Homo sapiens: one gene and its partners. The protein of the gene in region 2 purifies or fractionates together with the protein of the main gene of each other region. This does not show direct contact. Each region holds a gene or a part of one and is shown on either strand. Other genes may lie near its edges. The genes, in order: DDX18, MTF1, LMNB1, RBM28, DDX27, DRG1 and SMARCA5.

Region 1 (3,500 bases), on a different chromosome or scaffold from region 2:
ATTTGTTTAAGTTCTTAGTAGATTCTGGATATTAGTCCTAGCCAAAATTGACAAATGGGATCTAATTAAAGAGCTTCTGCACAGCAAAAGAAACTACCATCAGAGTGAACAGGCAACCTACAGAATGGGAGAAAATTTTTGCAATCTACCTATCTGACAAAGGGCTAATATCCAGAATCTACAGGTTGACATTTCATTACTTATCTTTCTCCCCCTCAAGACGGCAAGCTCTCTGAGGGCAGAGTCCATGAGTTAGGTACCTATTTTCTCTCTAGCACCTGGCACAGGCCTGTTGCTTTTCTAGTTATCTAATGAGTGATAACTGATGGCAGATCCATCCTGTAGGAGTTTGTGGTCATCATGGCCTCCAGTGTCACAAGCCTCAATACAGGACTGTGGGGGTATTAGGGCCCCTCTTCTGACATGGAGAAAAGGGGCTGATGGCCCTTCTGACTAGAAGCTTCAAGCTGATTCATGGTTGCAAATAGTCAGGATTATAGAGATTCTTACAGAAAAGTGCTTTACTGACTGTGTCCCTATCCAGTTCCTTGCCTTTCAGAAAGAAAGAAGTGCAGATTGCCTAACTCAGCAGAGCAAAGATGTAACTTTCCCATCAACATTGGGAGACTAGAAAAAGCAGATTTTCCTTTCTGTCCTGAGGGAATTTCATAGGCCGGTTCATCCTTCCCTGTCTTCAGTACCCAGTATCGGAATGCTGATCATCCTGGTTTACTAATCTTAATACTTTTGATTTCTAGGTTCCATTAAGTGAATTTGACTTTTCCTGGTCTAAAATTTCTGACATTCAGTCTCAGGTATGTGCTTTTTAAACGTTTGTGAGTAAACAGGAACCTTGTCCCAGCACTCTGTTTGTAGTGATTCACTGGGCAATCACTGTCCTTTGAAGTCTACCCTGTCCTAAAGTGAGGATCAGGCTGTGTAGTGTATAAGGTTTCTTGCTATTCTAGTTATCACCACTCTGTGCCCTCTTTAAATGTTTTCCATGGAGTGGCTTTGCTCTAGGATATTTAAAATCTGGTGTTTTGGAGGTTTTTGTTTGTTTTTGTTTATTAAAACCAGTGTTTCTTTCTATTTCAGCTTGAGAAATTGATTGAAAAGAATTACTTTCTTCATAAGTCAGCCCAGGAAGCATATAAGTCATACATACGAGCCTATGATTCCCATTCTCTGAAACAGATCTTTAATGTTAATAACCTAAATTTGCCTCAGGTTGCTCTGTCATTTGGTTTCAAGGTGCCTCCCTTCGTTGATCTGAGTATCCTTTTCTTTAATGAAGTTATCCTGTGACTAAGGAACAAAAGCTTGACAGAGGGGCATTTGGGGCTTTGCAGTGGATTGGTATGTGTTCTGGCTCAGACTGGAGGCTCCAGTGTTCACCCTGGTCGATGTCTGCTTTTCTGTGCTAGCACAGGACATAGAGGTTGGATGGGGTAAGCAGGGCTTAATCATTAGGATGGGGTTACAGGGACAAGGCAGCTTATGCCTTGAGCCTTCAAAAGACAAAGAAATTTGACTGTCAAGGAGAGACAGAGACAGTTGTGTGTTCCAGGCAGAAACACAGGTTAAAAAAATCAAAACTTCAGTGTTTGCTGAGGCTGCACTGTGCAGGGTACTTAGGTGAATGGGGTGTTTTGAAGCTAAAGAGAGGATGGGACCTTTCAAGGAGTTTTAATCATCTTAGAACCCCTGAAGGATTTTATGCAAGAAAGTGGCAAGTTCAGCAAAAGAAAATAAAACTTAGGTGTTGCTTAAGATAAAAGGCAGGAGTACTTCCAGTTGCTTCAGTTGTGATTTATAATTTGTGCCTTTCAGAAGAAGAAACTGAGCAGCTGAAATGAGGCCTGTGCTTCAGTGCCATAGGGGTAACTTCTGAGGGAACTAGAGGACCAAATTTTGGGTCACCATCCCCATTGTCAGCATTGAGTAAATGTCAGCTGAAATGAATGTATGTCGAGTCCTGTGGAAGGAAGAGCAGCTCCTTCACTTAGGCATTCCTAAATCAATTCCGAAGAGAAATGATAGTCATTTGTTTTGACACAGGAGGTGTTTTTTTAATGTGCTCCTACCAACTTCCTGATTAAACTCATAAATCCTTATTCACTGTCATGAATTTCATCGTGTGGAAGAAATAATTAATATGACTATTACACACCGAAGTTTAAAATCATACCTGCTAATTTAAGTCCACAGTCACGTGGCCACTCCTAATTTTCTGGAAATTTATTGCATAGGCTTATGTTCCCACATTTTCATTGTTGAGAATGGGGTTGTGGAGGAACAGTAGTGTTCATGCCGGTTTTTTTCTCTGTGTAGATGTTAGATTGGAGTTCATTATCTTTTTTGCTTGATTTCCTTAATGTTTGCCTCCAGACGTCAACAGTAATGAAGGCAAGCAGAAAAAGCGAGGAGGTGGTGGTGGATTTGGCTACCAGAAAACCAAGAAAGTTGAGAAATCCAAAATCTTTAAACACATTAGCAAGAAATCATCTGACAGCAGGCAGTTCTCTCACTGAACACATGCCTTCCTTTCATCTTGAATAACTTTGTCCTAAAATGAATTTTTTTTCCCCTTGATTTAACAGGATTTTTGTAGACTTTAGAATTTGGACTTACCTAACAAGAGTATAAATTGACTTGGGTTGCAAGCACTGAGCACTGTTACTTCTATCACGTCTCTCTTTTATTTCTGGGATATAAAACAGGCTTTAAGTTTCTTGGTTGCCCAAGGGCAGAGCAAGGAATATCTGGTGTTTCTTGTGATGATAATATTTTAATTTTAAATATCCCTCCCTCATACAAGTGTATGTTACCATTTTAATATAATTCTTTTTGTACCTTTCCTTCTTGTTTTGCGAAGATTTTTGTGGCATGGATTGCTGTGCTCACTGCTGTAAAAGGTGACCTAGTGTACTGGGCAGCTGGTGGCGGTGCAGAAAAGAGTCTCAGGTTATTTTTTGTTTTTAGTTATTTCTTGGACCTTGACAGTATCTAATGACTCCTCCTGAAAATGCTGCAGTATAAAAGAGCAAAGAGCTTTGGGAAATACCTAAGAAGCACCTTAAGATTAGGGTGGCATTGCTTTTATAGATTCTTGATTTTAAAGCAACAGGCCTTTCTCAGGTGTTGCATTTTTTGGAGCAAAAACTATGGGTTGTAATTTGAATAAAGTGTCACTAAGCAGTTATAACGTTTGATGGCTGGGGGGTAGGAAGAGGATGGAATTGAGATGTTTGAGCCTCATTTACATCAATAGAGGTGTAATGTACTGCATTTCTTCATTTGGTAACATAACAAAGACTTTCATACAAAGAACGATGATGCTCCTCATTAAGATTTGTTTAATTCAAGGTGGTTTGGATTTGGTAAGCCTTTGCACTCTGTAGAGTACTTAGAAGACAAGGGCAACTTACTTGGAGTTAGAGCCAAGCTGTCAGACGGTGCCCAGCACACATTAATGTTAGCTTCTTTCTGAGAAAAAA
Region 2 (3,500 bases):
GAGGGAAAAGAAATACGTGAAGCAAGGGAGGTGGGTTGTGGCATACTGGAGAGAATGCATGCCAGTCACCTCAAGGGCTTCAGCCGAATGCTGCCATGGGAATATGCAGGCCAGGGATTACCAGAACTCAAGTGGCAAAATTTTGACTTTCTTTTTTTTGAGACAGGGTTTCTTTACTCTGTTGCCCAGGCTGGAGTGCAGTGGTATGATCATAGCTCCCCGCAGCCTTCAACTCCCGGGCTCAAGTGATCCTCCCACCTCAGCCTCCAAGTAGCTGGGACCACAGGTATGGGCCACCACATCTGGATGATTTTTTAATTTTTCTGTAGAGATAGGGTTTTACTATGTTGTCCAGGCTGGTCTGGAACTCCTGGGCTCAAGAGATCCTCCCACCCCAGCCTCCCAAAGTGCTGGGATTATAGGTGTGAGCCACCACATCAGACCCAGAAATTTTGATTTTTACATGAAATCTACCAACTTGTAAATAAAAGCAAGTACAGCTGACCCTTGAACAACATGCATTTGAACTGCACAAGTGGACTTATACTTGGGACTTTTTTCCACTTCTGCCACCCCTGACACAGCAAAACCAACCCCTCCTCTTCCTCTTCCTCCGCCTACTCAATGTGAAGACGATGAGGATGAATCACCTTTACAATGATCTACTTCCCCTTAATAAATAGTAAATTTATTTCCTCTTCCTTGTGATTTTCTTAACATTTTTTTTTTTCTAGCTTACTTTAAGAATACAATACATAATACATATAACATTCAAAATATCTGCTAATCTAAACTGTTTATGTTATCAGTAAGGCTTCCAATCACAGTAGGCTAAGGCCATTGCTAGCTCAGTTTTGGGGGAGTCAAAAGTTATACTAGGATTTGGTTGTGCAGGGGGTTATGGGTTGGGAGGCCAGCACCCCTAGCCCCTGTGTTGTTCAAGGGTCACATGTAATTGAAAATAACTTAAACACACTGTATATACCAAACTAAAACCTCTTTTTAGGGCAGATCTTGCCCTAGTGCCAACATACGTTTTAAGGTCATTTTGTAACAACTCTGCTTCTAGAAGGCAGAACTCAGAAGGATCACTTTGGGATTGGGTAGAAGTGTGGTGATGAGTGGGGCTGTCCACCAATCTAGAAGTGCTCAAAGATTAAATTGCCCACTGGAGCCAAAAGGGAGCAATTCTTCTTTTCCCCCCCTTTTTTTCAGACGGGGTCTAGCTCTGTTATCCAGGCGGGAGTGCAGAGGCGCAGTCAAGTCACTGCAACCTTGAACTCCTAGGTTCAAGATCCTCCCCTAGACCTCCCAAGTAGCTGGGACTACAGGCGCACGCCACCATGCCTGGCTGCTTTTTAAAAATTATTTTTAGTAGAGATAAGGTCCTGCTACGTTGCCTAGCCTGGTCTTGAACTCCTGGCCTCAAGCAGTCTTCCCAAAGCACTGGGATTACAAGTATGAGCCACCACCACCAGCTGATGATTCTCTTCTACGTCTATCAGCTGAAGGAGGGGAAATTCAGTGATTCCTTTTTTTTTTTTTCTTCATTTCAGTGATCCTGATTGCCAATATGATAGAAGGTGAAGTCAGAAATTATGTGAGGCCAGGCGCAGTGGCTCACACCTGTAATCCCAGCACTGTGTGGGGCCGAGGCAGGCAGATCGCTTGAGGTCAAGAGTTCGAAACCAGCCTGGCCAACACAGTGAAACCCCGTCTCTACCAAAAGTACAAAAATTAGCTGAGCATGGTGGTGCGTGCTTCAAATCCTAGCTACTCGGGACGCTGAGGCAGGAGAATTACTTGAACCTGGGAAGTGGAGGTTGCAGCGAGCTGAGATCAAGCCACTGCACTCCAGCCTGGGTGATGGAGCAAGACTCCATCTCAAATCTATGTGGGACAACTTCCAACTTCCAGTCCGGACAGAGTTAAAACTCATAGGCCAATAGTGTGACTTTCAAATTTTCATTGTGACACAAAGTAAGAAATACATTTTACACTGTATATACATACATTCTTCATATTATATACATATCCATATGTGTAACTGAAACAAGTCTATGAAACAGACCTTATCCTTACTATGTGCAATGTCCTCTGATTTTTTTTCTATTCTATTGATGTCTTTGAAATGCTGATTATAAACCACTATTTTAAAACCCAATGAAAAGGTGCAATCCAGTTTGAAAAATAGTTGACTAACAACTACCACTGAGCATAAGCTTTGCAACCTCCTCATAGTTGTTATTATTATTATTATTATTATTATTATTATTATTATTTGAGACAGAGTCTCGCTCTGTTGCCCAGGCTGGAGTGCAGTGACATGATCTTGACTCACTGCAAGCTCCACCTCCCAGGTTCACGCCATTCTCCTGCCTCAGCCTCCCAAGTAGCTGGGACTACAGGCGCCTGCCATCATGCCCGGCTAATTTTGTTTTTTGTATTTTTAGTAGAGATGGGGTTTCACCGTGTTAGCCAAAATGGTCTTGATCTTCTGACTTCGTGATCCACCCGCCTCGGCCTCCCAAAGTGCTGGGATTACAGGCGTGATCCACCCTCCTCGGCCTCCCAAAGTGCTGGGATTACAGGTGTGAGCCACCACGACCAGCCATAGTTATTACTTTTGTTCTGTTTATAAATCATTATAGGTAGTAACATAATTAAAAACGAATGAGCTATATTTGTCAATGATATTAGGTTGGTGCAAAAGTATTTGCGGTTTTTGCCATTACTTTCAATGGCAATTACTTTTGACCAACCTAATACCTCAATAATACTAGGGAAAAGAAAAGGAATGGGCTTGTGTGCCTCCAAAACATATGTACAAAAATGTTCACAGCAGCACTATTCATAATGGCTCCAAACTGGAAACTATCCAAAGGCCCAACAGGAGAAAGAACAAATATTGGTATATTCATTTAGTGTATTGTGGTATATTCACTTAGTGTAATATTGTTCAACAAGAAGAATGAATGACCTGTAACTGTATGTAATAATATGGCTTAATTTCTTAAACATAATGTTATGAGAAGAAAAGCCACACATAAACAAGTATATGATTCCAATCATAAAAGCATTAAAAAAAAAAAAACAGGAAAAACTAATCTTAGTTGTTGTAAGTCAGAATAGTGGTTGTCTGCAGGGAGAGATCATGGCTTTTGGGGGTATGTGAGGGGGGGGCCTCTGGGGTGCTGGGAATGTTATTTTGTTTGTTTTCTTTTGTTCTGAGACAGAGTTTCGCTCTTGTCACCCAGACTGGAGTGCAATGGCACGATTTCAGCTCACTGCAACCTCTGCCGCCACGGTTCAAGTGATTCTCCTGCCTCAGCTTCCCGAGTAGCTAGGATTACAGGCGCCCGCCACCACACCCGGCTAATTTTTGTATTTTTAGTAGAGACGGAGTTTAGCCATGCTGGCCAGGCTGGTCTCAAACTCCTGACCTCAGGTGATCCGCCTACCTCAGCCTCCCAAAGTGTTGGGATTATAGGCGTAAGCCA
Region 3 (3,500 bases), on a different chromosome or scaffold from region 2:
TTTTTGAATATTTTCCTATTGTTTGTCTTAATAGTGTTTGTTGCTGAGTCATATCAGTTTCATCATGCTGCCTATTAGGCCATAAGAATTTCCTTTTGGTTAAATAACTCAGGTTAGTGAAGTACTTCTTAAATTTTACTTAAAATTGACATGGCTTTAAAATACTGGTTTTACAAGATATATTTAAATAATATATAGATGGTAGCAGTGTTATGTTTTGGAATTAGAAATTTTACATTGCTTATAGCATCTCTAGATTTTTGACTTGGGACCAAATGAATTGGTTGGTTAGAGTCTGCTTGCCTTAGAGAAGAGTACAGTATGGTACTTAAAAACACCTCTAACTTTTGTTTTTCTAACACCCAGATTCTGGAGACTTTGGTTGCAGCTAGACCTTAATAAACCAGTACAATTACATTACATACTATAAAATATTTAAAAACCCCAAGATCATCAGAAGTCATAAAATTTAGGGTTAGTGGCAAGATCTGAGAGATCATCTAGATAGTTAGAGCTCTTCATTTTCCTTATGTGGAAACTGGTTTAGTGAGATTAGTTACAGCTTGCTTATAGCCTCATAGGTAGTTTCAATGGCAGAATTAGAAAGGAGAATCTAGGTCTAACTTCTCATACTGTGTTCCTTATATTTCACTACACAGGTGTAAGTGCAGCTACTGAAAATAGAATTTAAATATTTCTATTTAAAATACAGAATGATTCAGAGTAACTTTAAAATTTTTATACCTAGATTTTGATTTTTCCCTCTTAAAGAGCTCTACAACATCAAAGGCAGTCAAACAGAGACATCATTGGGTTTATAAATCTCGGCTCAGGTTATCTGTGAATCTTGGGTAGTTTATATCTCTCATCAACTCTCCTTTAGATTCTACCTTTTTGCCCATTCAAATATATCTTCTACCTCTGATATATGAAATAAAGGGAGGCATTTTGAACTTACATGACTTTTTTTTTTTCTTTTGGAGAAAAAGAAAATACAAGGAACATGGTAGCGGGGAAATGGATTTCTCCATTTATAGCATGATTTTTGCAAACGCAGTTAAATGCAAGTTCTCTGAGGTTCAGGGACTACCTTTGTAATATCCATCTTAAGAGGAGTGCCTGTCTAAATAGCATGTCAAGTCATATACTACTCTGGAATTTAATTAATTGATTGGTCAATTTTTTTTCTTTAAAAATATATTTTTGTGTGTGCGTGTGAACCAGGCACCCCCTCTGCCCCCAAATAGGTTTACAGTGACTCTTGATTATTTTTTAAATAACCTTGTTATTTTGGCATAATTTTAGATTTACAGAAAAGTTGGCAAAGTACTATAGACAGTTCTTGTTTTCCTCTCACCCATTTTCCCCTGTTGTTAGCATCTTATGTTACCATAGTATATTTGTCAAAACTAAGAAACTGACATTGGTATATTACTGTGAACTCGTCTCCAGACTATTTGGATTTCACCAGTTCTTCTGTTATCTTCTTTCTGTTCCAGGTGCCACATGCCTCCCCTGGTCTGTGACAGTTTCTTGGGCTTTCCTTGTTTTTTATGAGCTTGAGTCTTGAGTAAGATTGTCCAGGTATCCTGTAGACTGTCCCCCAATTTGGATTTGTCCGGTGCTTTTCACGTGATTAGACTGGGGTTTTGGGTTTTAAGTGCCCGTTTTGTCACATCGTATCAGGGATTGCACGTATGTGATAACCACATGACATCACTGGTGGTGTTTGGTTTAAGATAGTGTTTGTCAGGTTTCTCCACTGTCAACAGCGCTACTATTTTTCCGTTCCCATACACTGTTCATGGAAAACAGCTCACTAAGTCCAGCCTACCCTCAAGGGTGAAGGACAGGGCAGGACTTAAGCGCCACATTCTGGAGGGAAATCTACATTTATTAAATGGCATTCTTCTGTAACGATTTATCCATTCCCCGTTTGTTTGGTTTGTTTGTTTGTTTGTTTGTGTCCGTATGGACCATGGGCATTTACTTTATACTTTGGGTTGTAAGCTAATACTGCAGTATTTACTTTTTTGGCTTAAATTGTTTCATATTTGGCCACTGGGAGTTCTGTCAGCTTGGCCACTATGTCCCATTGTTTTTTGAGCACTTTGTTGCTTTCTGGTACTATAACATGCTCTAGGCTCATCTTGCATTTTCCCTGCCCCAGTCCTAGAATTATCCAGTCTCCAAGGAGCCCTGGTTCTTGTTATTGGAGAATGGTATATAGAAATTAAGATCTGGGCACTGAGTGTGCTCACTGGTACTGGGTATCACTGCTTCTTGGCCCTCTCACCGATAAAAGTGGGTAACATTTTATGTATGCTAACCCATGTGTATGCACATATTTATAACTTTTTCTGTCTAATCATTTGTGTTAAGATAAACATGAATTCATACAGATGTCTCTGACTTGAATCTAGTAGGACAGCATTCAATTTTGGCTTCCTTTCTGACATACCTGTATCTTTTCTCTCTCAGAGTGAGAAACCTGGTTTTTATCATCCATTTACTTATCTGTTCAGCCCCAGTATATGTTAAAGCAGTTTCAAAATTTTGAACCTGTACTGCTGTGAAAAGTAAATTTACCAGCAAGAGTACAGTTTTTATGTATTTGGTAGCTCCTTTTTATCTCTAGCCTTCTAGATTTAGTTTTTGCACATTAGATGCCCTTTCTCTCCTGCTCTGTTGCAGGTACTTGTGATTCTGAGGGCCTAAGCTATCCATCAGTCTTTTTGAGTTGTCACTTTCTGAGGCTACTGAGATGAATTCTGTCATGGAGAAACACAGAAGAATAATTACCCAGCGAGCCACAAGGTTTCTAAGATGAACTTTCTGGTGTAGGATGTGTGATTTTTAATTTTTTTATGCCAAATATACAGCTTCTATATTCACAGTAATACTTTACAAATCACCCTATATTGTGTGTCCTTTGTGTGCTAACTGAACATGAGATAGCCCAGCAATCCTAAAGGGACACTAGGTAGTGCCTTCCACATAGTAACCAGAGTCCCTTTGCCTTGGTTTCTGAATATTCCTCAGCAGTCTGCTAAAACGTACTTTTACCCACTCTTAGGTTTATTTTGTCAGTCAGTGTTTATATCTTTTTTTTTTTTTTTTTGAGACAGAGTCTCGCTCTGTTGCCCAGGTTGGAGTGCAATGGCGTGATCTTGGCTCACTGCAACCTCTGCCTCCGGGGTTCAAGCGATTGTCCTGCCTCAGCCTCCCAAGTAGCTGGGATTACAGGCGCCCACCACTACAACCTGCTAATTTTTTTTGTATTTTTAGTAGAGACGGGGTTTCGCCATGTTAGTCAGGCTGGTCTCAAACTCCTGACCTCAGGTGATCCACCTGCCCCGGCCTCCCAAAGTGTTGGGATTACAGGCGTAAGCCACCACACCCACCCAGTGTTCTTATCTTTTTAAGTTCTTTATTTAATTTATACTTTTGGAAGTAAAGGCTTTGTAAGGGAGCCAGACTTGACTTTTACCAAAACCACA
Region 4 (3,500 bases), on a different chromosome or scaffold from region 2:
CTTTCTACATAGCCACCACACCTGGGATAAGATGGAGTAAAAAAATAAAGAATTAGAACTATGTTTCCAGTTAGACTATCAGGAATCAAAACAGGCATTCTGGAATCATCTGCACCCTACCTGGAAGCTAGGACATCTCTACGGCAATAACTTCTTTTTTTTTTTTTTGAGACACAGTCTCGCTCTGTCGCCCAGGCTGGAGTGCAGTGGTGCCATCTCAGTTCACTGCAACCTCCGCCTCCAGGTTCAAGCGATTCTCCTGCCTCAGCCTCTTGAGTAGCTGGGATTACAAGCATGCACCACCACACCTGGCTAATTTTTGTATTTTCAGTAGAGACGGGGTTTCGCCATGTTGACCAGGCTGGTCTTGAACTCCTGACCTCAGGTGATCCACCTGCCTCCTCGGCCTCCCAAAGTGCTAGGATTACAGGTGTGAGCCACCGCACCTGGCCGGCAATAACTTCTTTAGGCACAGTACTTGATAAGTCAATATATAAATCACAGTCAGTTTAATAAATAGCCCACAGATGCTGAACAGTGATATAACCAAGGAGGAATCTAGATACCAACCTGCATCTATCAGCAATTATCTCAGGGACATTTTTCACTAGGGATTTAAAAGGACACTCTCACCAGATAAAAGAAAGAATACTGGCAAGGGTTCTTTCAAGTTTAACCCCAAGATCAAGTTCTAGAGTATTTCACCTAAATAGCTACCGTATTAGCAATGAGACTCTTAATAATGCAAACATCTTTTGAAAATGCAGAAAGTGGGTTACTACACTAATTCACCAAAACACCAGAAATATCTGGGTCAATGATATGGGTATAGAAAGCTTACCTTTTATCTCTTTCATGTTCATGCCTTTGAGAGCTTTACCTGCTTCTAGGAGGTTTTTGAACTGAACAAAACCAAAACCGCGCATCTTCCCATCTGTGTGCAAATGCACAAAGAAAGAAGTGAGAGGCAGCAGGAGGTAGCCAGAATACTAAGAAGTAAATTACTGCAATTCAGGCCCACAAGATGGCCCAAATTCTGCCAGCAGGTCAGGCCCTTCCCCAAAGCAATTGCTTACATCTTCTTACTGAGTATACTCTGACTTGGACTTGGGGAGAGCAAAACACTTTCTCAAACTAACTCGCCTTCTAAAACTAATTCTGATCCAACAGAAAATATCATCAGGGGAATAAAACCATTATTTGGGTTTTCATTAGATGTGAAGCACTGTGCCAAATACTTCATATATATCATATATGTTTGTTCAAGGGTAATATGTTAACTAACGTAATCCACACCAAGTGAAGGTTTATTAGTACCTGGTTTCCTAGGGATATTTACTTCCAGGACAGCTCCAAATTGAGCAAATACTGTCTTCAAGTCATCTTCTGAACACTGAAGCCAAAAGTGAAGAAAGAAAAAGAGAAACACAATCACAGCAAATTAACATAAAACATCAACTACTAAATTCATTAATTATGAAAAACATGAATGTTTACTTTTTTTTATTTTTGATACTAGGACATCAAATGTTTCTAAATAGAAGACATTTTACTTTGTACCTAAGAGGCAAAAACACAGACGTCTGAGAACTTTTTCTACCTTTTCTTTCTCAGTAGTAGTTTCCCCAAAAAGGAAAGCAGCTTCACACTTAGTGCCCTTATTACACAGGCCCACTTTCTGAATTCAACAGGGGTAAGGTTGATTCCCAGAAGGAATTAAGCCCAATTATACCATCTTGGTGAGGAGTTCTACTAATGATCACATCTTGGCTCTAAAAGCCTTCAAAACATGCAATGTTCATTTTCTCTCTCACTTACCTTAAAGCTCAGGTTCCGAATAATTAATCTGGCTTTCTTATCTGCCACTTTGGCTTTTTTAGCCTTCGGCTCCTTCTTTGGGCACTCTGAGTTTTCTAAAAAATAAGAGGTAATGGAATAAGTACTCGAAAATCACCCACTTCTACGCCAGAACATCACAGAAAAAAAAGCTACTGGCGACAGATGGCATTTACCACAGGGTTAAGTGTGGCAATAATACCAAGGAATACCAGATTTTTCCAAAGAACTAAAATGAGTATCACAATACACTGGATGATTTTGGAGATCAAAAAGAAATGCAAAAAGCTTTAAGTTCTAGAAGCTACCTCCATGCCTCCCTCTTTCATTTTCATAGTGCTCCTCCTCACCCTGGGAGAAAAACTTCCTTCAATTACTAGAAACTCACCATTTTTCCCCTTTTCCTTTGTCTTGTTCCTCAGTTTTTTCTTGGCAACAGTCACGTTGATCTTGCAACCTTCAAAGGTGGTAATCTCCTTGAGGGCCCTCTGAACATCTTCCAGCATTGAAAAAGTGACATAGCCAAAGCCTCGACATGCCTTACTCCCTGGAATAATGGAGTGGGGAGGGAGTGGAGGGGCAGTGTGAAAAGGAGAGAGAATCATAAGCCAAGAGCACTAAATGAGTAAATCCTCAAAGCCTAAGCTAGAGGATATACTGCCAACCCATCTTGCTATCAGTTTGCCAAAAGTCTCAGGAGGGCGAGAAACAAGGGTGGTATCAGTGGTTCCCTCCCCACTTTGCTTAGAAACTGTTAGCCTTCCTCCTCTTTTAATTTAGTGTCTTTGCTGTTAGCTCCCCTTCTTCCCCCTTTCTTGATAATCCCAAGAAAACAGAGAATCCATGACATATGAGGCCCTCAAAGAACTCAACATCAAAAAGAACAAAACATCACCAAAGAAGGCAGGAAAGGTAAGTATATGCTATGGTTTGAATGTGTCCCCCAAATTTCATGTGTTGGAAACTTAATCCCCAATGTAGCAGTATTGAAAGGTGGAGTCTTTAAGAGGTGACTGGATCAGAGGACTCTGTCTTCAGGAATGGATTAATCAATTTATGGATTAATGGGTTAATAGATTAATGGGCTATCATGAGAGTGGAGCTGGGGGCTTTATAAGAAGAGGAAGAGAGACCTGAGCAAGCACATTAGCATGCTCAGCCCCCTCGCCATGACACCCTGCACTGTCTGGGCATTTTGCAGAGTCCCCACCAACAAGAAGGCTCTCACCAGATACAGCCACTAAACTTTGGACTTCTCAGCCTCCAGAACTTAAGAAATAAATTTTTCTTTACAAAGTACCTAGTTTCAGGTATTCTCTTATAAGCAACAGAAAATGAATTAAGACAGTATGGTAGCTTCAAAAATCAGAACACAATAATGCAGTTACTCCTCAAAATAGATCAGCAATAAATGCCTGAGGCCCAGACAAAAGAACCTCAAACAATAAATACTGCTCAGAGAGACTGCAGATGTTATGACCACTATTACCAACGCCTTAGCTGTCGATATCAAATTAAACCTTTCCAAAGCAGCTGTGCATTCTTGTCTCATTTTATCTTTAGAACACCTCAAAATAGGTAAAGCAAATATTATCACCCCTTCTTTCCAAGTAAGTAATTTGAGATGGAAGACAGTAAGTGAATTGGTTAATGTCACACAGGGT
Region 5 (3,500 bases), on a different chromosome or scaffold from region 2:
ACGAGTGCCAGGAGGTGTCGTCAGAGAGGGCCAGAAGGGGCAGAGCCTTGTAGGTCAATATAAGGACTCAGGCTTCTAAGAAGAGTGAGACTGGGAAGTACTGAAGGACTCAGAGAAGAAGAGGAGGGACACGATGGAACTCATTGCTTAAGAGAGTTCTCGGCCGGGCGCGGTGGCTCACGCCTGTAGTCCCAGCACTTTGGGAGGCTGAGGCGGGCGGATCACGAGGTCAGGAGATCGAGACCATCCTGGCTAACACGGTGAAACCCCATCTCTACTAAAAATACAAAAAATTAGCAGGGCGTGGCAGCGTGTGCCTGTAGTCCCAGCTGCTGGGGAGGCTGAGGCAGGAGAATGGCGTGAACCCGGGAGGTGGAGGTTGCAGTGAGCCGAGATTGTGCCACTGCACTCCAGCCTGGGCGACAGAGTGAGACTCCGTCTCAAAAAAAAAAAAAAAAAAAAGGGAGTTCTCTGGCAACTGTATGGACAAGAGTTGAGGGAGGCAAAGAGAGAAGCAGAAAGTCCAGTTAGGGGTGGCTGCAATAATCCCATGGTTGCCAAAATAAGCCACTACTGGCCAGGCACAGTGGCTCAAATCCCAGCACTCTGGGAGGTTGAGGCAAGAGGATTGCTTGATGCCAGGAATTTGAGACCATCTTGGACAACATAGCAAGACCATGCTTCTACAAAGAAAATTTTTGACAAGAAGCTGCTACCTTCAGAAGAGGGCGGGAAAGGTTCATGTCCTGGAACGAGAGGTTTTCATCGTACTGAGATGCATCTTCAAAAAATCCTCCTGCTTCCTACACCAGAAAACCAAAAGAGAGAAGAGAATTCAACAAAAAGAGCCAAGAAACCCAAACGACCTTAAACTCCTTTCGGTTTGCCAACAAGCTGCATACTGTCTTGCAGCCCCAAGCTCACCTGTCCTTTCTTCTTCTTCTTCTTCCGATCCTTTACTTTGAGTGTATCTATGGAGAAAAACTTAGCTGATGACCACGGCTCAGACTTACAAAGCACTTGCATCCTGCTGGACACTGTCCTAAGTGCCAATGCCACACTTCAGCCTCTGAGGGGTGACCATCGTCAACCTTGTTTCACAGATGAGGACACTTTGTGGCAGCATGGTGAAGTAACTTGCCTAAGGTCAGAGAGAAAGCTAACCCAGTGACTCTGGTCCAGAGACCAGGCTCTCGACCACTACACTGTATTATGATGCTTTAGCACACATTTCTGCAAGAAATACTTATTGAGGGCGGAAGCAGTGGCTCCCGCCTAAAATCCCAGCACTTTAGGAGGCCGAGGCAGGTGGATCACCTGAGGTCAGGAGTTCGGGACCAGCCTGTCCAACATGGTGAAACCCCATCTCTACTAAAAATACAAAAATTAGCCAGGTGTGTTGGCGTGTGCCTGTAGTCCCAGCTACTTGGGAGGCTGAGACAGGAGAGTTGCTTGCACCCGGGAGGCAGAGGTTGCAGTGAGCTGAAATTGTACCACTTGCACTCCAGCCTGAGTGACAGAGTAAGACTCCATCTCAAAAAAAAAAAAAGAAAGAAAGAAATACTTATTGAGCACCCACTATGTGGCTGGACCCATCTGAGTATGTCACCCCAAATGAGTTTGTATCACAGTGGCATCTGGCAGCCGCATGGGGCTAGATGGGAAAAGAGTAAACTACCTATGAAGTACAACAACCCAAACAAAATCCCAAGAGAAAAGAAAACCTAAAAGAAAGGATTCAGCGGGCACAGTGGCTCACGCCTGTAATGCCAGCACTTTTAGAGGTCAAGGCGGGAGGACTGCTCGAGCCTAGAAATTTGAGACTAGCCTGAGCAACAAAGCAAGACCCCGTCCCTACAAAAAAAAAAAATTAGCCAGGCGCAGGGGCATGCACCTGTAGGCCCAGCTACTTAGGAAGCTAAAGCAGGAGGATCACTTAAGCCAGTGAGTTCAAGCCTTCCAGTGAGGTATGATTGCACTACTGCACTCCAGCCTGTGGATGGAGTGAGACCACATCTCTTTTGTTTTGTTTTTTGAGACAGGGTCTCATTCTGTGGCCCAGGGTTAAGTTCAGTGGGACAATCTCAGCTCACTGCAACCTCTGCCTCCCAGTTTCAAGTGATTCTCGTACCTCAGCCACCTGAGTGGCTGGGATTACAGGTGCATGCCACTACACCAAGCTTATTTTTGTATTTTCAGTAGAGATGGGGTTTTACCATGTTGCCCAGGCTGGTCTCAAACTCCTGGCTTCAAGCGATACACCCACCTCAGCCTCCCAAAGTACTGGGATTACAGGCATGAGCCACTGCACCCAGCCAACATCTCTTAAAAAAAAAAAAAAAAGAAAGAAAGGAGTTCAATGTAGTAGGCAGAACAGCTTAAAGATAAACTGTGCAGAAGAGTGGAGGAAACCCTACAAAGTAAAGGAGGATGCCTTCTGATCTCCTGTCCCCATTACTGACACCTCCGCCGTAACGTCTACCTGCTTTGGTGAGGATGTTCTCATCAGCTGATGAGTAGTCAGTCTCCGAGGCTTCATCTTCTGAGCCTTCCTCATCATTCTCTTGAAGGTCTTCCTGCTCCTTTGGTTCAGAGCCTTCCTTTGCTTCTTTCTCCTTTTCCAACTTCCCAGACTTGGCTTCTTTATCCTGGGAAAAAAATTAAAGTGAGGGTGATGAGAAACTTCTAGAAATCCAGAACCTAAGTAGAGCGATAGGAAGCTCTCCGGCCTGAATGAACGGCTGTGGGGATTCTCAGTACAGATTCACAGCAAACACACAGAAGAGTGCGCCTGCCCCAGCCATGCCCCGCTCTATAAGGGCTTCCAGAGAGATGCTGGGGTCGTGGTGAGAGTAAAGAGTGGGCCCTAACAACGAAAAATAGCCACTTTTCTTCTCACCTCTGTTTTCCTTTTCTTTCGAACTTTCTCAATCTTCTCATCTAATGTAGTGGCTGCCCTCTGCAGATAAAAATAAAGAGGTGAAAAAGAAATTTTCATTGAAACATCGAATAAGAGAACAAACTCTTCATAATTAACTTGAAAAAGAAAAAATTTTGGCCTTCTCTGAAAATACATATACATATTATATATATAAAAATTTTAGGCCGGGCGCGGTGGCTCACGCCTGTAATCCCAGCACTTTGGGAGGCCGAGGTGGGTAGATCACCTGAGGTCAGGAGTTCGAGACCAGCCTCAACATGGAGAAACCCTGTCTCTACTAAAAAAATACAAAATTAGCCGGGTGTGGTGGTGCATGCCTGTAATCCCAGCTACTCGGGAGGCTGAGGCAAGAGAATTGCTTGAACCTGGGAGGCGGAGGTGGCAGTGAGCCGAGATCACGCCATTGCACTCCAGCCTGGGCAACAAGAGCAAAACTCCGTCTCAAAAAAAAAAATTTTTTTAATCCTCTCCAGACGATCTTGAAAATGCAGTGCTGGTAAGGCTGAGCACAGTGGCTCATGCCTGTAATCCCAGCTACTCAAGAGGCTGAGGCAGGAGA
Region 6 (3,500 bases), on a different chromosome or scaffold from region 2:
GAAGATTTATACCAGAAGTCAATTTGCTTTGTATGCCATGAAATCAGCACCTATTTGCCCAAGAGTTGACACATTTTCTGTTGCCCAGGCTGGAGTGCAGTGGCACAATCTTGGCTTACTGCAACCTCTGCCTCCCGGGTTCAAGCGATTCTCCTCCCTCAGCCACCCCAGTAGCTGGGACTACAGGCACATGCCACCATGCCTGGCTAATTGTATTTTAGTAGAGACGAGGTTTCCTCACCATGTTGCCTGGGCTGGTCTCGAACTCCTGAGCTCAGGCAATCCGCCCACCTCAGCCTCCCAAAGTGCTAGGATTACAGGCATGAGCCACTGCGCCCACCCTTGGTTAGCAAATTTTTAACCAAATTTATTGAGGTACAATTTTTTTTTAATTGTATCCATGTTAAAGCACACAGTTCAATAACAAATGTATATACCTGTGTAACCACCAAACCAATCAAGACATGGAATATTTCCATCACCTACAGCATTCCTTTGTGCCTCCTTTCAATCTTCCCCACTATTGCCAGCCAACCACTGATCTGCTTTCTGCCACCATAGTTTGCACGTTTTAGAATTTCATATAAATGGAATCATATAAAATATATTATTTTGGCCTAGCACAGTGGCTCATGCCTGTAATCCTAGCACTTTGGGAGGTTGAGGCAGAAGGATTGCTTGGAGCCAGGAGTTTGAGACCAGCCTGTGCAACAAAGTAAGATTCAATCTGTATAAAAAAAAAAAAAAGTAGTCTTTTGTGCCTGCATATCTTATTTTTATTAATATATATTTATATTGACAGAGACAGAGTCTCGCTCTATTGCCTAGACTGGAGTGCAGTGGCATGATCATAGCTCACTGTAGCCTTTAACTCCTGGCCTCAAGCAATCCTCCTGCCTTGGTCTCCCAAACTGCCGAGACTGCAGGCATGAGTCACAGTATCTGGCCTTTTTCTATATTAAAATTCATTTGTCAAAAATCCTGCTTCCAGCTGGGCACGGGAGCTCATACCTATAATCCCAGCACTTTGGGAGGCTGAAGCGAGAAGATCACCTGAGGTCAGGAGCTTGAGACCAGCCTGGTCAACATGGTGAAACCCTGTCTCTGCTAAAAATAGAAAAACTGGCCGGCGCAGTGGCTCACGCCTGTAATCCCAGCAGTTCGGGACGCTGAGGCAGGAGGATCACAAGGTGAGCTGATTGAGACCATCCCGGCCAACATGGTAAAACCCCATCTCTACTAAAAATTCAAAAAATTAGCCGGATGTGGTGGCACATGCCTGTAGTCCCAGCTACTTGGGAGGCTGAGGCAGGAGAATCTCTTAAACCCGGGAGGCAGAGATTGCAGTGAGCTGAGATTGCGCCACTGCACTCCAGCCTGGGCAACAGAGCGAGAATCCATCTACAAAAATAAATAAATAAATAAATAATTAGCTGGCCATGGTAGTGGACACCTGTAATCCCAGCTACTCAGGAGGCTGAGGCACGAGAATCACTTGAACCAGGGAGGCAGAGGTTGCAGTGAGCCGAGATCATGCCACTGCACTCCAGCCAGCCTGGGCAACAGAGCGCCATCTCAGAAAAAAAAAAATATTCTGCTTCCATCAACTTTCTAGTTCCTCATTTTTTAAAATTCTCTTTTTTGAAGAGACAGGGTCTCGCTTTGTCACTCAGGCTGGAGTGCAGTCGCATGATCATAGCTCATTATAACCTCCACCTCCTGGGCTCAACTGATCATCCTGCCTCAGTCTCCTTGAATATCCGGGACTACACATGTGTGCCATGTCACATGGCTATTTTTTTCTTTTTTTTAATTTTTATTTTTGTAGAGACAGGGTCTTGCAATGTTGCCCAGGTTGGTCTCGAACTCCTGGCCTCAAGTGATCCTCCTGCCTCAGCCTCCCAAAGTGCTGGGATTACAGGTATGAGCCATTGCACCTGACCCTGACCCCTCATTCTTTTTTTGAGATGCAGTAGAGACAGCATTTCACCATGTTGTTCAGGCTGGTCTTGAACTCCTGACCTCATGATCTGCCCACCTCGGCCTCCCAAAGTGTTGGGATTACAGGCGTGAGCCACCATGCCCAGCCTCAGTGGTAGACTTTTTTTTTTTTTTTGAGATGGAGTTTCACTCTTGTTGCCCAGGCTGGAGTGCATTGGTGCGACCTCAGCTCACAACCTCTGCCTCCTGGGTTCAAGCAATTCTCCTGACTCAGCCTCCCAAGTAGCTGGGATTACAGGCATGGACCACCACTCCTAGCTAATTTTGCATTTTTAATAGAGACAGGGTTTCTCCATGTTAGTCAGGCTGGTCTCAAACTTTCAACCTCAGGTGATCCGCTCGCCTCAGCCTCCTAAAGTGCTGGGATTACATGCATGTACCACCATGCCCAGCCTGATTTTATTTTATTTATTTTATTTTTTTGAGATGGAGTCTTGCTCTGTCATGCAGGCTGGAGTGCAATGGCGTGATCTCGGCTCACTGCAACCTCCGCCTCCTGGGTTCAAGCTATTCTCCTGCCTCAGCCTCCCAAGTAGCTGGGACTACAGGCATGCATCACCATGCCCAGCTACTTTTTGTATTTTTAGTACAGACAGGGTTTCACCATGATAGCCAGACTGGTCTCAAACTCCTGATCTCAAGTGATCCACCCCCCTCAGCCTCCCAGAGTGCTGCAATTACAGGCATGAGCCACCAAGCAGCCATGATTTTATTTTTATTATTATTATTTTTTGACACAGAGTCTTGCTCTGTCGCCAGGCTGGAGTGCAGTGGTGCAATCTCGGCTCACTGCAACCTCTGCCTCCCAGGTTTAAGCGATTCTCCTGCCTCAGCCTCCCGAGCAGCTTGGGACTACAGGCGCGCACCACCACACCCAGCTAATTTTTGTATTTTTAGCAGAGACGGGGTTTCACCACCTTGGCCAGGTTGGTCTCGATCTCCTGACCTGGTGATCCACCCGCCTCGGCCTCCCAAAGTGCTGGAATTACAGGTGTGAGCCACCATGCCCGGCCTTATTATTATTATTATTTTTTTTTTTGAGACAGGGTGTCTGTGTGCTGCCCAGGCTGCAGTGCAGTGGCATGATCATGGCTCACTGCAGATTGACCTCCTGGGCTCAAGAGAACCTCCTACCTCAGCCTCCCGAACAGCTGGGACTACAGAAGCATACCACCACATCCAGCTATTTTTTTTTTTTTTTTTGAGACAGAATCTTGCTGTCACCAGGGTGGAGTGCAATGGTGCAATTTCCGCTCACTACAACCTCTGCCGCCTGGATTCAAGCGATTCTCCTGCCTCAGCCTTCTGAGTAGCTGGGACTATAGGCACACGCCACCATGCCCAGCTAATTTTTATATTTTTAATAGACACGCGGTTTCACCATGTTGGCCAGGATGGTCTCGATCTCTTCATCTTGTGATGCACCTGCTTCAGCCTCCCAAAGTGCTGGAATTACAGACTATGGAATTACAGGTACCTGCCACCATGCCTGGCTAATT
Region 7 (3,500 bases), on a different chromosome or scaffold from region 2:
ACATCTTGTAGATGCGTGCTCTTGGCTTTTGTTTCATTATCTATAAATTAAGAAATGTAATTATGTAAAATATGCATTCACATATGTATCTTGTTCAGCACTTTAAAAACAGTCTGTAATCTTGGAAAACATAAATAACAGAGGCTTGTCATCTGTAGGACATTACTGGGGTTCTAGCATGTTCACAGTCTTGTTACTGTGCAGATTCATTTGCTGCTATGACTGCCATTTGTGACCCAATGAAACACTATAACCATGTGCCTTCCTAATAGCAAATTGGGCTTCAGTTTTTACATTGGTGTGACCTTAAAAAATGATTATGTTCCTTTTAAAAATACGTAGTTGTTACAACATTATGGCATTTGGATACTTCTTGTGTTTGCTAGGTAAAATGTCTTTTTGTAATTTATTCCCAAACTGACATTTTAAACATTTATAGACAGAGATGTTGAGTAGTTGGTTTCCCTGTTTATTGAGCTTTTCTTGTCTTGCTTCTCCTTTGTTTCATCAAACTATTATTGTTTTTGTATAAAGGCTGCCTAATGGCTCCCAATTTCATTATTTTTATGAAAATTTGTCTTCGAGGCTCTTAAGGTTTTTTTTGCCCAAGTAAATTTTTTCCATTCTCTCGGTATTATAATAGGGAACATTCAAAGGGGCAGATGGCAGATACGAAAGGAAGGAATAGTATCAATCCCAATACCGTTTTAAAATTTGTCACAGCCTAACTAATGAATGAGCACTGCATTTTTTCCAGCTTCTGAGTAAATTCACTTGTATTGCACAGTGTTTAATATTTTAAAAATTGTTCCGATCAACTGTATTGAAGTATAATTGACATAAAATAATTTTAAGTTTGTAATTCAATGAGTTTTAGCAAATATTTCTTTAAATACCATCACAATCATGATGCAGAGTAGTTCCATCATCCCCAAAGTTTGCTCCTGCTCCTTTCTAATCAGTTCTTGCTCCCACCTCCTTGCCACTTCTGATCTGCTTTCTATCACTAGTTAGCATTTCATTTAAGTGGAATCATACAGCATGTAGTCTTTTGTGTTTGGCTTCTTTCACTTTGCATAGTGCTTTTGAAACTCATCCATGTTGCATTTATCTGTAGTTCTCTTTTTTTTTTTGCTGAGTTCATTGTATGGAGGCATGCTGAAACTTTGATTTCTGAAGTTTTAATTGATACTCTGATAAAATGTATCTTAAATTTTTTTTTTTCAGCAAACTGACCGGGCAAATAGATTCGAGTATTTATTAAAGCAGACAGAACTTTTTGCACATTTCATTCAACCTGCTGCTCAGAAGACTCCAACTTCACCTTTGAAGATGAAACCAGGGCGCCCACGAATAAAAAAAGATGAGAAGCAGAACTTACTATCCGTTGGCGAGTGAGTAATAGTTTAAACTTCATAGTTCAACCAAACTTATTTTCGATAGTCTTCAGTGGAAGCATAAAATCACTATGATAAATAACTTAAAATTATTTTAGTGCCATTATTTATTTGGCCCTGTTTGGCTTGGCATGATTTAGCCATAAATGTATAAGTATATAAAAATACGCATAATGGTTAGAGCACAGTGGCTCTTGCCTGTAATCGCAGCATTTTGGGACGCCAAGGTGGGAGGATTGCTTGAGTCCGGGAGTATGAGAGCAGCCTGGGCAACGTAGGGAGATCCCATCTCTACAAAAAAAAAAAAAAAAAAAAAAAAGAATAAAACTGCATAACGCCTTATTTTTTGTAGCATTATATAGTTTATGAATTGTAACAATCATGTTGAGTATGGAATTTAGATGTCACGTCATTCCTCAGAGAGGAAACAAATGCAGAGGTTAAGTGGCTTGTTTAACATCACATTGAAGAATGATCCAGACTTGAATTTGAATCTGACTTGGGTGTGCTCTAGGCTCCTCCATCACATACAGATGTTGACAGTATTTTATCTAAAGTGTGGTGTGTGGGATATTGTGATGACTTACATCACGGCAGCCTGTTTAAAATTTTTATTGCATACTTAGTTGTTTTTATATAAATTGAAGTGTCACGTTGTATGCCGTCCTTTGGTGGTGGTTGAAAATAATTCTTACATGTTGAATTTGGAAATTCTCTAGAATTTTCATTCTGGTTGGATAAATAAGATGTTTAATTAGTAATAGTAGATTTAGGGCAGTCTTGGCTCCCTGAAATGGCTTTGTGTAATTCCCAAAGTGAAAACTGTGATTAGTAATTAAAATACAAAAGATTGTTTAAAAGAAGAAGTATCAACAAGGTTAAATTCACTACACAGTTTGTTGAAAGAGGGAAGTATGATCTTCATCTTGAAGGGGTTATCGTTGTAAGCATAATACCTTTTATTTGGGGTATTCCACTCATTCATTATATCTTATTTCTCATCCATTGTGACCAAAGCACTATTTTAATACTTACGAAACTTTGAAGGGACAATTTTGCCCTTCAGCTGTATTTAAAATATTTCAGACTTCAGAAGTTTGCATTAGTGTCATGGCATGAAACTGGAAACTACTGTACTGAATATTGTTATGGGATAGTCAGTATGATGTCTCGAAAAGAAACACTTCTTTTATTCTTTTCTATTTTATTATTATCCTAATTTATCTTTTTTATAAGATAAAAAAGATTCTATTGGAAATAGTAATAATAAATTGTTAGGCTTAATGTATTAAATAGTGTTATTAGGGAAAAAAGTCCTAGTTAACAGATTTCTTTACTCCTCAAACCATCTTAAATGGGAAGCTAATTTACCTAAAGTAATGAGGGTCATAGTATTGTCTTTGGGTATCAGGAATACATTTTTTTAAATCTTTTTTTGTTTGTTTGTTTTTATTGAGACAGAGTCTTGCTCTGTGGCCCAGGCTGGAGTGCGTGCAGTGGTGTGATCTCGGTTCACTGCAAGTTGTGCCTCTGGGGTTCAAGCGATTCTTGGACCTCAGCTGGGATTACAGGCTCACGCCACCACGCCCAGCTCATTTTTGTATTTTTGGTAGAGATGGGGTTTCACCATGTTGGCCAGGCTAGTCTCGAACTTCTGACCTCAAGTGATCCACCCACCTCTGCCTCCTAAAGTGTTGGGATTACAGGCGTGAGCCACTGTGCCTGGCCAGGAATACGTTTTTTTTTTAAGTCATTCACGATTATATTCAATTTTTAACAATAAATGACATCTCAGCTTTTAAGTTTTACAACTGTAATAATCAAACATTTTGAGAGTAACTATAAAGGATATTTTATAAAAAGAATTTAAAATTATCTCCCAGTTTATGGAGAATAAATAGGGGATGGAAGTAGATCTTTGTACTCAATTTCATAGGCTCAGAATGCAGAGAAGTACAAGGAATAACAGACTAGGATGTACTGATTATGATTAGAAGCATATATAACAAACAAGAAGGCCCTTGAATTTCTGAGGAATGCTTCTATCTTGGAAGGCCGCTTATCCTTTTAGCAAGCATGTGGTTTTGGTAGAAATGAAGTTAC

What was found.
Region 1: the proteins of MTF1 (region 2) and DDX18 purify together in Homo sapiens (affinity purification with mass spectrometry, with the first as the bait; one large-scale study listed by BioGRID). This does not show direct contact.
Region 3: the proteins of MTF1 (region 2) and LMNB1 purify together in Homo sapiens (affinity purification with mass spectrometry, with the first as the bait; one large-scale study listed by BioGRID). This does not show direct contact.
Region 4: the proteins of MTF1 (region 2) and RBM28 purify together in Homo sapiens (affinity purification with mass spectrometry, with the first as the bait; one large-scale study listed by BioGRID). This does not show direct contact.
Region 5: the proteins of MTF1 (region 2) and DDX27 purify together in Homo sapiens (affinity purification with mass spectrometry, with the first as the bait; one large-scale study listed by BioGRID). This does not show direct contact.
Region 6: the proteins of MTF1 (region 2) and DRG1 purify together in Homo sapiens (affinity purification with mass spectrometry, with the first as the bait; one large-scale study listed by BioGRID). This does not show direct contact.
Region 7: the proteins of MTF1 (region 2) and SMARCA5 purify together in Homo sapiens (affinity purification with mass spectrometry, with the first as the bait; one large-scale study listed by BioGRID). This does not show direct contact.

What each region holds. Positions count from the first base shown.
Region 1 is NC_000002.12:117,828,191-117,831,690, forward strand, and holds part of DDX18 (ATP-dependent RNA helicase DDX18), read left to right. Parts: intron 1-758; coding exon 759-815; intron 816-1,098; coding exon 1,099-1,276; intron 1,277-2,391; coding exon 2,392-2,534; 3' UTR 2,535-3,500. UniProt on the Homo sapiens protein: ATP-dependent RNA helicase that plays a role in the regulation of R-loop homeostasis in both endogenous R-loop-prone regions and at sites of DNA damage.
Region 2 is NC_000001.11:37,825,093-37,828,592, forward strand, and holds part of MTF1 (metal regulatory transcription factor 1), read right to left. Parts: intron 1-3,500. UniProt on the Homo sapiens protein: Zinc-dependent transcriptional regulator of cellular adaption to conditions of exposure to heavy metals. Binds to metal responsive elements (MRE) in promoters and activates the transcription of metallothionein genes like metallothionein-2/MT2A.
Region 3 is NC_000005.10:126,815,136-126,818,635, forward strand, and holds part of LMNB1 (lamin-B1), read left to right. Parts: intron 1-34; exon of another isoform or gene 35-112; intron 113-1,499; exon of another isoform or gene 1,500-3,500. UniProt on the Homo sapiens protein: Lamins are intermediate filament proteins that assemble into a filamentous meshwork, and which constitute the major components of the nuclear lamina, a fibrous layer on the nucleoplasmic side of the inner nuclear membrane.
Region 4 is NC_000007.14:128,337,409-128,340,908, forward strand, and holds part of RBM28 (RNA-binding protein 28), read right to left. Parts: intron 2,384-3,500; coding exon 2,225-2,383; intron 1,914-2,224; coding exon 1,819-1,913; intron 1,394-1,818; coding exon 1,318-1,393; intron 935-1,317; coding exon 842-934; intron 1-841. UniProt on the Homo sapiens protein: Nucleolar component of the spliceosomal ribonucleoprotein complexes.
Region 5 is NC_000020.11:49,222,416-49,225,915, reverse strand, and holds part of DDX27 (probable ATP-dependent RNA helicase DDX27), read right to left. Parts: intron 2,960-3,500; coding exon 2,900-2,959; intron 2,649-2,899; coding exon 2,483-2,648; intron 972-2,482; coding exon 925-971; intron 804-924; coding exon 717-803; intron 1-716. UniProt on the Homo sapiens protein: Probable ATP-dependent RNA helicase. Component of the nucleolar ribosomal RNA (rRNA) processing machinery that regulates 3' end formation of ribosomal 47S rRNA.
Region 6 is NC_000022.11:31,416,604-31,420,103, reverse strand, and holds part of DRG1 (developmentally-regulated GTP-binding protein 1), read right to left. Parts: intron 1-3,500. UniProt on the Homo sapiens protein: Catalyzes the conversion of GTP to GDP through hydrolysis of the gamma-phosphate bond in GTP. Appears to have an intrinsic GTPase activity that is stimulated by ZC3H15/DFRP1 binding likely by increasing the affinity for the potassium ions.
Region 7 is NC_000004.12:143,520,202-143,523,701, forward strand, and holds part of SMARCA5 (SWI/SNF-related matrix-associated actin-dependent regulator of chromatin subfamily A member 5), read left to right. Parts: intron 1-1,227; coding exon 1,228-1,394; intron 1,395-3,500. UniProt on the Homo sapiens protein: ATPase that possesses intrinsic ATP-dependent nucleosome-remodeling activity.